4 linked regions of the Homo sapiens genome follow. The protein of the gene in region 2 purifies or fractionates together with the protein of the main gene of each other region. This does not show direct contact. Each region holds a gene or a part of one and is shown on either strand. Other genes may lie near its edges.

Evidence for each region. Proteins that work in one complex are often made in the same cells at the same time.
Region 1: the proteins of SERPINC1 (region 2) and ZNG1A purify together in Homo sapiens (affinity purification with mass spectrometry; one large-scale study listed by BioGRID and IntAct). This does not show direct contact.
Region 3: the proteins of SERPINC1 (region 2) and HSPBAP1 purify together in Homo sapiens (affinity purification with mass spectrometry; one large-scale study listed by BioGRID and IntAct). This does not show direct contact.
Region 4: the proteins of SERPINC1 (region 2) and HR purify together in Homo sapiens (affinity purification with mass spectrometry; one large-scale study listed by BioGRID and IntAct). This does not show direct contact.

Annotation. Positions count from the first base shown.
Region 1 is NC_000009.12:169,057-172,556, forward strand, and holds part of ZNG1A (zinc-regulated GTPase metalloprotein activator 1A), read right to left. Parts: exon of another isoform or gene 3,433-3,500; intron 3,117-3,432; coding exon 3,025-3,116; intron 1-3,024. UniProt on the Homo sapiens protein: Zinc chaperone that directly transfers zinc cofactor to target metalloproteins, thereby activating them.
Region 2 is NC_000001.11:173,910,828-173,914,327, reverse strand, and holds part of SERPINC1 (antithrombin-III isoform 1 precursor), read left to right. Parts: intron 1-2,313; coding exon 2,314-2,529; intron 2,530-3,436; coding exon 3,437-3,500. UniProt on the Homo sapiens protein: Most important serine protease inhibitor in plasma that regulates the blood coagulation cascade. AT-III inhibits thrombin, matriptase-3/TMPRSS7, as well as factors IXa, Xa and XIa. Its inhibitory activity is greatly enhanced in the presence of heparin.
Region 3 is NC_000003.12:122,783,832-122,787,331, forward strand, and holds part of HSPBAP1 (HSPB1-associated protein 1), read right to left. Parts: exon of another isoform or gene 2,578-3,500; intron 1-2,577. UniProt on the Homo sapiens protein: May play a role in cellular stress response.
Region 4 is NC_000008.11:22,114,011-22,117,510, reverse strand, and holds the end of HR (lysine-specific demethylase hairless), read left to right. Parts: intron 1-471; coding exon 472-636; intron 637-1,082; coding exon 1,083-1,211; intron 1,212-1,748; coding exon 1,749-1,811; 3' UTR 1,812-3,092; downstream 3,093-3,500. UniProt on the Homo sapiens protein: Histone demethylase that specifically demethylates both mono- and dimethylated 'Lys-9' of histone H3. May act as a transcription regulator controlling hair biology (via targeting of collagens), neural activity, and cell cycle.

The DNA.
Region 1 (3,500 bases), on a different chromosome or scaffold from region 2:
TAGCTACCATAGACAGTGATTCCTCTGATGGATCTGGGCAAAGTAAATTGAAAACCTTCTGGAAAGGATTCATCATTCTAGATGCCATTAAGAACATTTGTGATTCATGGGAGATCAAAGTATCAACATGAATAGGAGTTTGAAAGATGATTCCAGCCCTCACAGATGACTTTGAGGGATTCCAGACTTCAATGGAGGAAATAACTGCCGATGTGGTGGAAACAGTAAGAGAACTAGAATTAGAAGGGGAGTCTGAAGATGTGACTCAATTCCTGCAATCTCATAAGAAAACTTTAACTAATGAGAAGTTGTTTCTTATGGACGGGAAAAGAACGTGGTTTCTTGAGATGGAATCTACTCCTGGTGAAGATGCTATGAACACTGTCAAAATGACAACAAAGGATTTAAAATATGACAGAAGCTTAATTGATAAAGCAGGGTTTGAGAGGACTGACTCCAATTTTGAAAGAAGTCATACTGTGGGTAAAATGCTATCAAATAGCATCATGTGCTATAGAGACATCTTTTATGAAAGGGAGAGTCAACTAATGCAGCAAACTTCATTATTATCTTATGAAATTGCGATAGCCACCCCAACCTTCAGTAACTACTACCCTGATTGGTCAGCACCCATCAACATCGTGGCAAGACCCTCTACCAGCAAAAAGACTATGACTTGCTGAAAGCTGAGATGATTGTTAGCATTTTTTAGCAATAAATATTTTTAATTAAGGTATGTATGTTTTTTAGACAATTCTATTACACATTTTATAGACTACAGTATAGTATAAACACAGCTTTTTTTTTTTTTTTTTTTTTTTTTTAAGAAATGGGGTCTCATGCTGTCATCCAGGCTGGAGTGCAGTGGTGCAATCATGACTCACTGCAGCCTCAAACTCCTGAGCTCAAGTGATCCTCCCAAGTAGCTGGGACTACAGGCCTGTGACATCACACCCGGCCAAAACGCATAACTTTTATATGCAATGGGAAACAAAAAAATGTGTGTGACTCACTCTATTGTGATATTCAGTTTACTGCAGTGATATGGAACTAAGCCCACAATATCCCTGCGGTATGGCTGTACAGTATAAGAATCACCTGAAGGGCTTATTAAAAACAGCTTGCTTGACCCCCTCCCTTAGAGATTCCGATTCAGTAGATCTGGGTTGGTCAAGAATTTGCCTTTCTAACAAGCTCCCAGCTGAGGCTGAGGCTGCCATTCAACATACTACCAAGTAGCACTGGCATAGAGAGATCCCTGGAATAAAATGTACCTACTTGTGTGTGTGTGTGTATGAATGTGTGTGTGTGTGTGTGTGTGCGCATGTGCATGTGCGTGTGTGTGTGTGTGTACAGTCTTGCTCTGTTGCCTGGGCTGGAGTGCAGTGGCGTGATCTCGGCTCACCGCAACCTCCGCCTCCCAGCTTTCAAGCGATTCTCCTGCCTTAGCCTCCTGAGTAGCTGGGATTATGGGGTGCGCCACATCGCCTGGCTAGTTTTTGAATTTTCAGTAGAGACTGGATTTCACCATGTTGGCTAGGCTGGTCTTGAACTCCTGGCCTCAAGGGATCCACCTGCCTCAGCCTCCCAAAGTGCTGGGATTACAGGCATGAGCCACCATGCCCAGCCCCTACTTGTATATCACAAAAGTGAGATGATTACTTTTCAACTTTCTTCTTTGTATTTTTTAGGTATTTAAATTTTTTTACAATGAATGTTCCATCTTTACCCAAACAATAAAATCTTTATTGTAAAGAAAGTTAGAAGCAAGAAACATTAACATTTTTTATAACTACAATTTGTATAAAAGCTTTCTCTGTGATCTTTAGTTTTTCTTTCTTCCTCTGAAAAGCTGAATCGTGTTTAATTAAACTCTCAAAAGTATCAAGTTTTTGTCTATAAAATGGCAAAACTGGCTATGATGAAATAAACTGATATTTGCTATTTCTAATAAAAGCATACAATATATTTTTCTTTCTTACCAGATTCAAATATTTAACACCAACATATTAGTCCAAGTCCTATCATCAGTCAGATTTATCAGAAAGGTATGAAAACCCATGCCTACTATAAGGACCAAAATAGCCTAATTCAATACTACTTTGAAAACATGGGGATGATGTTATTATGTAATTGTTTTAAGTACAATAACCACTGATCACATTTGAACTCTCAGGATACTTCAATATTTCTTTTGGACAACTATGACCTGTTGAGTAAATTACCCCCAAATACTTTAATATAGTTTTACAAATCGCCCCAATGCCAGAGACCCAGATCAAAAAAAAAAATAATGGTATGGGTCAGATTCACAGAATAAGCACTAACTTTTATGCAAAATGAAAATAAAGATTTTATCTAAAAGTTATTTGGGGAAAATAAGCAGACTTTATCAAGAATTAGAGCTTGGTAAGAAGGTAACAGAAACCCATTGTTAGAAACAGGTTGACTCTGTGTAGCTTTCCATAGTAGAGTTCAGAGTTTCCTGTCATGATTCCCTTATCAATGCAGTGTAATAACTACTTACACAGCACTTACATTGTATTAGGTATTATAAGTAATCTACAGATGATTTAAAGTATATGGGAGGATGTGCATAGCTTATAGGCAAATACTACACCATTTTATGTAAGGGACTTGAACATTAATAGATTTTGGTATCCTCAGAGATTCCGGAACTAATACCCCATGGATGCCAAGGGACAACTGTACTTAGAGGTAGAACGTCTCTGCTCTTCCTACATGTCCTTATTTTTAACAACTTCTGTTCTTACAAATAATCCTAAGTCAATCAATAAAACTTCAAATTCTATTAACAGCTTAAAAGTACCAAGAAATACTCTGTTCATTCATTCAACTGCCAAAGAAAATGACAACCGAGTACTTTTCCTCTTTTAAACCAAAAAAAGTTTTTGGTTTAATACTAACAAAAGCTTTAATCCTCATTTTAGATATTCCTCTAATACATCTATTTACAATATATCACAGAACTATATTCTGGTTATTAATAATCTCACTTCTTACCAGGGTCTGCTAATCCAGTGGTCTCTAACAGTATGTAATCAAATTTCCCCTTCTTTTGCATCAAATTCTCAATAGCTCTAAGGCCACTGTCCCTGGAGAATACCAAAACATAATTTACAGTTAATTACCTAAATATTTTGAAGTGATTATTATAAACACTTTAAAATATATTCAACAACCCGAGACAAAAGTACCCTTGGGAATGTGAAAATTTAACTCACTTCTAACCTTCTAACAAAATGTCCGTCCCATATTTACCAGTGAGAAAACAATAGATGCATATATATAATAGGTAAAAAGAAATCATATACATAATACTTTATCAAAATTAAAAGCAGAGGAAACTTTATCTGACCAAGTATCTTTTTATAGCTTTATGAAATTTTTAAAAACCAACATACAAAATAATGATAAAATGTATTAACTATAGTAGTTTAATATAATAGCTAAAGAGACACTGATATTAAACACCATAT
Region 2 (3,500 bases):
TCTTTTGAGCACCTTAAAATGGGGGAAGGCTTGTATCTTCTCTCAACTTCTTTTCAGTAATTCTTTCATCTATATGTTTACTCATTAATTTGATCATTTATTTATTTATTCATTCAGCACTTCCTCTGTGCCAGGCAATGTGTAGTGCCAGTCCCTCCTCTGGTGGAAGAAGAGTAGCTTTACCATATGGTGACATCAGGCATATAGGCTCTCGTGGAAAAAAATTCTAGGATAGTATTTTTTTTTTTTTGAGATGGAATCTCGCTCTATTGCCCAGGCTGGAGTGCAGTGGTGCAGTCTCGGCTCACTCCAAACTCTGCCTCCCAGGTTCAAGCAATTCTCCCACCTCAGCCTCCTGAGTAGATGGGATTACAGGCACACGCCATCACGCCCAGCTAATTTCTATATTTTTAGTAGAGATGGGGTTTCACCACGTGGCCAGACTGGTCTCAAACTTTTTTTTTTTTTTTTTTGAGACGGAGTCTCGCTCTGTCATCCAGGCTGGAGCGCAGTGGCACGATCTCAGCTCACTGCAACCTCTACCTCCCGGGTTCAAGCAATTCTCAGCCTCAGCCTCCCGAGTAGCTGGGATTACAGGCCCCCGGCACCATGCCTGGCTAATTTTTTTTCTTCTTAGTAGAGATGGGGTTTCACCATGTTGGCCAGGCTAGTCTTGAACTCCTGACCTCGTGATCCACCTGCCTTGGCCTCCCAAAGTGCTGTGATTACAGGCGTAAGCCACCGCGCCTGGCCTCAAACTCTTGACTTCAAGGGATCGGCCTGACTTGGCTTCCCAAAGTGCTGGGATTACAAGCATGAGCCACTGCACGGGGCCTAGGATGGTATATTGAGACCAGGGGCCCAGGAAAGCCAAGAGAAGCCTCAAGGACGTGAGAGTGTTTTCTGGCTCTGGGAAGTATGGATCATTTCAGCTCAGTGACTTAGTTCCCACCCCCTTCCCCCCACTGCCTTTTGTGGGAGGGAAGTAGGGCATGATAAGATGAAATGTCATAGATTGATTGATCACTGTTGGCCTCTGGGGCTATGACAAGTCATGGATGGAAACACTAGATCTTTAATCTGTCCTTGGCTTGGCTGCATGACAGTCTTTCTTCAAGTTGGATCACACTTTGGAAGCAGAGTTCATCAATAGGGAGGCATGAGTCCCTTCAAGATGGTATACGGTGCTTATTTGAAACTTGGACACTAAAGTCTGTGGGTCTTAGGAGGGTTCCTTCTATTCTAGTGGTCAATTTCCATGGAACTTCATCACCTTTGCTCAGGGCTCTGGGGTGAGTTAACCCAAGTCTTCACTCTTTGAAAGAAATTGTAGATTTAAAAACTCTGAAGACACATAATACTGCCTTCTCTGGGCCCTTCAGTCATTTTTGTATACATTGGTACTGGTCTCAAAGTACTTCCATATCACTCATGTCTCTGTCCCCAGGTAAGATCTTAAATGTAACCCTTCCTACAAGAAGAACAGAACAGAACACTGCTTCCAAACCACACATGTTCCTTTGGTCCTCCCCTCTACACAAACGCCATGTGTTGGGAAAGCAGGGTGAGACTGAATCTCTCTGGAGAAAAGAGAGATTCAGCACCAAGCTTTTGATCAAAAGCATAATCCCCCCCTAAAAAAAGTGCCTATTGGAGCAAAATCAGGAAAACCAAAGGCAGAGAACAGATAAAACCAAAAGGCCTTTTGTAGCCTGAGGAGAGAGCATGGAAAGGGCAGGAGGGGAACAGCCTCACCCATTTTGCCTTGGGGATGGTGAAGGTGGGCATTGGGGGATTCCAACTTCAAAGCATGGATGACTTCTAAGTCCTTTTCAGCCCTGAGCTCTTAGATTCTGAGCCTGTTTAATCCCTTGCTGATAGATTCACTCTTCCTTTTTCACCCCTACCACCAGTATCCCAGAGCCTCCATGAGCAGCTGGCCCCAGTAGATGCCACAAAAGTGTTTGTTACGAGAAGGACACCGTCCTGATTCTCTTCTCTGTCCAGAATCACCAAGAGGACTTTTCCCATTCCAGCAAGAAAACGTCTGTGTGTTGATCTAGAGGCGTTTAGAGACTTTAGGTGGCAACCTAGTCTCTCTTTTTCCCTTTATCCTTCCTACCCTTCATTCTTCTTTTATCCTTTTATTCATCAGAACACAAGAGTTGAGCATTTATGCTGTCCCAGGTACTGTGCTTGAAGGAGTTAACAACTGAGGTGGCTATTAGTCAGAGACTGACCAGCATGTGCTCACCACCCATGTTAACTAGGCAGCCCACCAAACCCACCACCATTTTTTTTTGACTTCTATAGGTATTTAAGTTTGACACCATATCTGAGAAAACATCTGATCAGATCCACTTCTTCTTTGCCAAACTGAACTGCCGACTCTATCGAAAAGCCAACAAATCCTCCAAGTTAGTATCAGCCAATCGCCTTTTTGGAGACAAATCCCTTACCTTCAATGAGACCTACCAGGACATCAGTGAGTTGGTATATGGAGCCAAGCTCCAGCCCCTGGACTTCAAGGTGAGTTGCAGATGTTACCCCTGACCTCCGAGTTCTTCCTCTCCACTCAGAGATTGAGGAGGTGGAGAAACAGCATCCAAATTCACACTGCTTTGCTGCTGAAGACTGCTGGAGGGCTGACTAAAAGTTAGAACCCCTGCAATAGTTATTCTTACTTGAAACCTGAGAAATCAAAGGTATCCATGCTTGGATTGTAGTGACTGCCCAGAAAACATGAATTAATAATCAATTCTTCATTCCATCCACCAACTTCAAATATATACCAAAGGGTGTTTTGAAGATGCCAGTTCTACAAGATATCTTACTTAATTTGAACTGTTATCATGGTCAAATAAAGTTGGTACATGATGCATGTTACATTCTCCTCTTGGAGATTCATGAAGCACATGGGCCTATGAAGGTTCTGAGAAACTCTGCAACAAAGAAATCTGTTGGCTTTATTCAATCGGCATTCCTCAAATGTATTTGACTGCATGGGCATTTCTCTCCTCCATATAACCTGCCAACCCCATATAACCTGCCAACCCCATATAACCTGCAATCATTCATTGCTTCCCCTGGCACATGCCTTGGAAATTCTACTTTTGTGAGTTAAGGTTTTCCAAAGTCAGAGAAAATAATATTTTATCTTCTTTTTCCCAGACTATTTTCGCCTTCCTTCTTTTCATTTATTTCTTCCTATTTCTTTTTGTTCTTTTTCTTCTGATAATATTTATTAACTACAGGAAAGATTCATGGAACTATATTAGATATGTGAGGCTTCCCCAATTTGGGTTAGAGCAATGGCTTCTTAATCAAATGGTGGGAAAGGACAGAGGGATGGTGAGAAAAATAAAATGCTGCCTGGGAAAATGGAGAAGCCAATTGAATAGCACAGGTGAGTAGGTTTATTTTCTGTTCTCCTCAGGAAAATGCAGAGCAATCCAGAGCGGCCATCAACAAATGGGTGTCCAATAAGACCGAAGGCCGAA
Region 3 (3,500 bases), on a different chromosome or scaffold from region 2:
TCTTTTTTTTTTTTTTTGAGACGGAGTCTCGCTCTGTCGCCCAGGCTGGAGTGCAGTGGCGGGATCTCGGCTCACTGCAAGCTCCGCCTCCCGGGTTCACGCCATTCTCCTGCCTTAGCCTCCTGAGTAGCTGGGACTACAGGCACACACCACCATGCCCAGCTAATTTTTATATTTTTAGTAGAGATGGGGTTTCACCATGTTAGCCAGGATGGTCTCAATCTCTTGACCTTGTGATCCACCCACCTTGGTCTCCCAAAGTGCTGGGACTACAGGCATGAGCCACCATGCCCAGCCTTTTCAATGCCTTTTACCCAAAATAATCAATATACCAAAGTGGCATATTTGGGGGTGGCATATTTTGATCCCTACACTATGAAAAGCTATAATATATTCATGATAAATAGTATTCTGTTTTTCATGGGATATAAATTGGAATCATCCTTTGGGAAACAACTGGGAAAAATGAAAGAACTGTTCATTATCTCAGTAACTCATGTTAAAGGAATTTACTGTAACAAATAATTAATCATAAGCTATGTACAGCATACACATACACACACACAAATGTCTACTACCACACTATAACAACAAAAAATGTAAACAACCTGATGCCCCAAAGCAGAAAAATATTTACTAAATTATGACAAGGCAATCCCATAGTATACTATATCCACTAAAAATGAGGGCTGTCTAGAAATATGTAGAGATATGAGGTGGGAAGGGAGAGTTGGACCTGAAGTTGACTCAGAGAGCTATTGCAATAGCCAAGCGATAAGTATGATACAGGCCTGAACAACAGGGGTGGCAGTGAGTAAGTCAGATATGGTGAAGATGAAGAAATACTAAGAGAATAATATCAAAGGCTATTACAACCAGAGATGTGGGGTGGGAGTCAGATGTAGCCAAAAGACTGAGGTGTCTAGACTTGGTGACTTGCCATAAGAGAAGTCAGGAGCAATAGCTCATTCTTTTGGGAAGATGAGTAGCTTGATTTTGAACACAGGCATCATAACAATACCATACATTTAACTGTTTAATGCTTCACTGTTTACAATGCACTTTTACAGACATTAAAAGTGCTCATGTGATCTTATAAGAAGCCTGTAAAACAGGCAGAGACGGTAATTCATTTCCATTAATTGAAGGAAGAAATGGAAGCTTAGATGTCAGAGGACTGGAACCAGATTTATCAGGTCCCCTCAGTCCAAGTCCAGTGCTCTTTCCACTGCACAATCCTATTTCTAGAGAATTGACTGTGTGATTTAACTAGGGCTAAAAACTCAGAAGAAAAAATATAACCTGAAAGGATACACAGGAAAGCTCAAGATCAATTCATAGATAATCATTCACATGTGCTCCAGGGAGAGAGGAATGTTTTGAGGAGTGCATGAGTGTATGTGCACGTGCACTCATGGCAGGGAGTGCTAGTTGCCTGTGACAAAGACTCTTTGCTTGGCCAAACTTTAGTCAGGCTTTAATTCTTCTGCTAGGTCCATCTATGCACTTCCTTGTAAAACCCAGTTTTAGGAAAGAACCTTGCTAAGTCAGTTTAGCAAGAATTGCCCCCATCCCTGATATCTGATCAGGTTCTTCACCCCCAGCCAACCTCCAGGTGGTATCTGATCACCTTGGCCTGCCTTCAGCAAGAATCCTGTTAGGTTGGTTTTTCCAGATTTCCCCTTACCCCTGATGTTTCCTCTTAGTAATTTCTTATCCACTGACTCTGCTCCTTGGCTGTAAATTCTCACTTGCCCATGCTGTCTTTGGAGTTGGGCCCAATCTCTCTCCCCAGCTGTGGGACCCCGTTACAGTAGTCCTTACATCTATGGTGATGGTCCTGAATAGTCTTCCTTACCATGCCTTAACAAGTGTCACTGAATAATTTTTTATTTAACTTCTACTTACCCAATACTCATTCTCTTCTTCCTTACTAAAGAACTTTGGGCAACAGGACTGACTGAAAAATTTTATTTCCCAGACTTCTTTGCAGACAGGAGTAGCCAAATATAGATAGATAGATAGATAGATAGATAGGGAATATATATCTATAATTTCCATGTGTGTGCGTGTGTGTGTGTGTGTGCACGCGCGCACATATGGAAGTTGCGAGTCAGCCTTTTTGCCCTCATCCTTTTCTATATACTGCCTGAAAAGCAGACATGATGATTAGCCCTCTTGAGAGACAAATGAAAGGTCCAGGAAATCGCAAACCTTAACCAAAAGAATGCAAATATGTTCATCTTTGTGCTACTGAACCAACTACTACCTCCTGAATCCTTTTAGATTAAAAAAAAAAACAAAATTCCTTCTAGTCTAGACTGTTATTAATTCATAGCTGGTATAACACCTTGCTTTCTGAGGCCATCATTTTCAAGGATAACCATATTCTCCCTCTACACTGTTCTGTGGCTTGGGCTGGATGAATCATGGCTGGTCTGACACACTGTAGCATTCTTTCAGTTCCAAGCTTGTAAAATATTCAACCTTTGAACATTTTGCTTCTGGAACTTTAAAGGGCAGAGAAAAACAGAAGCATGAGTTACTTTGGGGTAGCGATTTATTTATTCTACTTACCTTACATTAGAGCCAATAGATCACATGGCTTTGATTATTCCCAAAATGGTTCATACTTGGGTAGATATAACTGGGTAGCCTTCTATAAATATGGACACAGGCGACAGTAACACATGAGTAGTATTTTGACAAAAAAGCTATAAAGAAGTAAATATTTCTTCTCTAGCATAAAGTTAAATTTAAAAAATGTAATTATCTGATCTAAAAATCCCACACATCCCAGAGATTATTTAATAGGAGACCTCCAACACTAAAATTTGCTGAGAGAGTGCCTGGCCTAGTGACTGGTATATATTAAATGCCAAAACATTTGCTAAATGAATGAGAGCACTATGAAGTGTGTGCAAAGCAGAGTAGCAGGATGTTCACCATAACAGGAAATTAGCATATTTACAGAATTTCAGGCCCATCGTGAAATAAAACAATCAGCTGGTTGTGAGATAAAACTAATTTAGCTTCTGATAATTTAATCAACAATAAACTGGGCCATTAAATTAATGAATTTAAATGTTACAATTTCCTTTAAAGAAGAATGCAATGCTACCCTGTATTAGTTAAACAGCCTATGGATGCACCCAGTTATTCCATGCTAATAATATTTTGCAAAGAGCTATAAAAATTCTGAAGCAACCTCAACAGTCTTCAAAGGATAAGGGTATTTAGGTCTAAACTTGCAGCAGGTAGTAATTTTTAACTAGATGATTTAGAAACTACTGAAAAAAAACAGATTAGTGATCTGGGTGTTACCCAATAGTTTTTTCTCTCTCCAAATGTAGGATGTTCTCCAGTCAATTTATTACAGCCTGAGTTGCAACTAATTCTTTGGAGATAGTGAAACATCATCAAAAATAAATTGCGTCCTTCTCAGTAATTTTTTAAAATTAATGTAAAGTACAAGATAATTTGAAACCTAATTTCTCTGA
Region 4 (3,500 bases), on a different chromosome or scaffold from region 2:
TTGTCTCCCCAGGGACACACAGCTCTCTCCTCATCCACCACTTAGCACACAATTCTGGCCATTCCAAAGACTTCAGATGAAGAAGTCCTGGTAGACAGTTTATGAACTGGGATTATGCAGGACGTCTCCCTCGGATTTGCAGAAAGGGGTACCATTGAGAGAGGGAGGAGAGGGGCCGAGGTCACAGAGGCTGTTAAAGGCCTCCAGCCCCAGAAAAGCAGGGATTCAGTCTGCCCAACTGTAGGGCCTTGAATCCCTTCCTTCTAAGCTCCTTCCAGCCAAATGTGTGTTCTGCCAACCTGAGCTGCCCCAGCCCCAAACAAACTCAGCCATGCCCTCCCTGCCTGCCCTTCAAGACTTGACCCTTCGGCTCTTTTCTCCACCCCTGGCCTCTGGAAAGTCCATGCCCCATCCTCCTGCAGCCCTGCCCTTCCCTCCCCATCTCGCTCATTCCCCCTTCTCTTCTTTGAGGTGTGCCCGGCCGGGGCAGGCGCCCTGGAGCCTGGCGCCCCAGGCAGCTGCTACCTGGATGCAGGGCTGCGGCGGCGCCTGCGGGAGGAGTGGGGCGTGAGCTGCTGGACCCTGCTCCAGGCCCCCGGAGAGGCCGTGCTGGTGCCTGCAGGGGCTCCCCACCAGGTGCTTCCCAGCGGGCAGGGGCTCTGCGGGGAGATCAGGATGGCAGAAGCGACCCAATCAAGGCCGCAGGCATCCAACATCCCCTCAATACCCAAGAGCCGGGCAGGGCAGGGAGCCGCACGCTGCTGTGGGGAAGAGATAACGGGGGAGCCAAGAGGCCTTGAAGTCACTGAGCCCAACTGGGACTGGCGCCAGAGTCCACTCCTGGTCTCCTGGGCATGCTGATGTCAGGGGGCTCGCAGGGAGACTTTAGGGTCTCTCCAGCAGTTCTGAGTCCCGGTTTTGGCCACAGGCTTTGAGGTGTCCAGTGGTGCATCCAGGAATCTGCTCTCTGAGAGCCAGGGGTCGGGGGTGGTTGTCATTAGAGGAAGCGAACCTCAGGGACCAGGGGGACAGGGAGAGGATGTGTGATCTTGAGCCTCACTGTCCATGTCCCCCCGACACAGGTGCAGGGCCTGGTGAGCACAGTCAGCGTCACTCAGCACTTCCTCTCCCCTGAGACCTCTGCCCTCTCTGCTCAGCTCTGCCACCAGGGACCCAGCCTTCCCCCTGACTGCCACCTGCTTTATGCCCAGGTGAGTGGGATGTGGGCCAGCAGGCTGGGTGTGCTACCCAAGCCTCCCACCTCCCTGTGCCACAGCTGCAGTGGACATAGCAGATCCCACCCTGTGCCAAGCAGGCAGCCACCCTGTGCAGGGGCAGAGTATTCCTTTTGTTTAGTTTGTTTCATTTTGTTTTTTGAGATGGAGTCTTGTTCTGTCACCTAGGCTGGAGTGCAGTGGCACTATCTCAGCTCCCTGCAACCTCCGCCTCCTGGGTTCAAGTGATTCTCCTGCCTCAGCCTCCCAAGTAGCTGGGACTACAGGCGCCCACCACCATGCCTGGTTAAATTTTTTTGGGATTTTTAGTAGACGTGGGGTTTCACCATGTTGGCCAGACCGGTCTTGAACTCCTGACCTCAAATGATCCACCTACCTTGGCCTCCCAAAGTGCTGGGATTACAGGTGTGAGCCACCGCATCTGGCCAGAGTATTCCTTTTAAGTAGGGTGGGGGACAGCGGGTGGGCCCAGGAATGTAGTTGAAAATGCTTTGTCCTCTCTCTTTTTCCTAGATGGACTGGGCTGTGTTCCAAGCAGTGAAGGTGGCCGTGGGGACATTACAGGAGGCCAAATAGAGGGATGCTAGGTGTCTGGGATCGGGGTGGGGACAGGTAGACCAGGTGCTCAGCCCAGGCACAACTTCAGCAGGGGATGGCGCTAGGGGACTTGGGGATTTCTGGTCAACCCCACAAGCACCACTCTGGGCACAAGCAGGGCACTCTGTTCCCCTCCCCCTTAAGCCAACAACCACAGTGCCACCAAGCTCACACCTGTCCTTCTCAGGCTGGCATCTCCCCCACCCTGTGCCCCTTTTCATGGTACCAGGCCCGCACTGGGGGCAATTGACTTCCTCCAATCCCCACTCCTCCGAGACCCAGGAGACAAACAGCCCTTCCTTGGGGAAACTTGGGAATCATTCTGGCTTAAACAACACCTCCTCCTGCTGCTCACTCCCGCTGAGCCCACTCTACTGCCCCAGCTCCGTTTCTACCACCGCATCCTCACTGGGCTCACTGCAGGCATGCTGAACAAGGGGCCTCCAACCTTCTGCCCTCCTGCCAAAAGATCTGGGGAGTGTGAGGAGAGGGTGGCATCAGGAGCTGCTCAGGCTTGGCGGAGGGAGCGGCATGGGCGATGTCACTCAGCCCCTTCCCGGTCCGCCCGCTTCCCTCCTTCATGATTTCCATTAAAGTCTGTTGTTTTGTGACTGCTGCCAGTGTGGTTGGCCCTGCCCCTGCAGGCCACATGGTCCAGGGAGGGAGGGGGACATGGAAATCTGCCTTAGAGACAAATGGAGTAGGGCAGCCCGGAGCTGGGGCCCAAGGGACAGGACACCACTGCCTGCTCTTCGTCTGGGGCCTGGGGCCTTGCCTCCCACTGAGGAGACTTTGGGTGGGGTGGGGGGCTGTCCCCCAAAGATGCTCCTGAGTGCAAGAGCAGGCAAGGCAGAGTCCTGGGGCACAGCCACGAGGTGACCTCCCTGTGCAGAGACTCCCGAGCCCTACTCCACCCAGCAAGCTCCAGTCCGCCCCATCTCTCCCGTCTACCCTGACCTGGAGATCCAGAAGTATGGCCCAGAAGAGCCCTTGCCCCGCCTGTCTGCCCTTGGTGGCAGTGGCCATGGCCGACGCCAGGCCCAGCCACCCTGGGACTGAGCCTGACTGCTTCAGACAGCCGACCCCTCCTTGTCCCCGCTCCACGCCCGCAGCCTCCTGGTGGCGCTCCGCCCTCTCCCGCTTCCTTTGTGTATCTCAGCCCTACAAAGAAAAACACTCCCACTCTTGTCATACCTAATTGTTCCTGCTGTGGTTTGGGGAATTTTTTTTATTAAATAAAGTTTTTTATTATAAGGGTAATATACTTTCAGAACATTCAGAAAATAAGAAAGTCACCTTCTAGCCCATCATTACACACCTCCAACTACTATGAGTATTTTGGCATATTCCCTCCCAGTGCTTTCCCCAAGGATTTGCTGTGCACATAGCTGGATTGCTGTGTTTTGTCCTTGGTTTCTTTCTTTCGACACCATATCATAATCATTTTCTGTGTTGCTACCTAATCTTCATTTTAAATGACTGCTTATATTCCATTAAGTGGCTTTGCCATGATTTACAAAACTATGCTTTATTTAAAAAAAAAAATGTAGGGCTTCTTTCATTGTTTGGAGAACTCAGTTATTTTCATTTTTTTATGGGATAAAGAGGAGAAAAGAAAAGAAAAAACTGAGAACTCTACAGTTTACTTTGCTTTTGTTTTCATTTAAT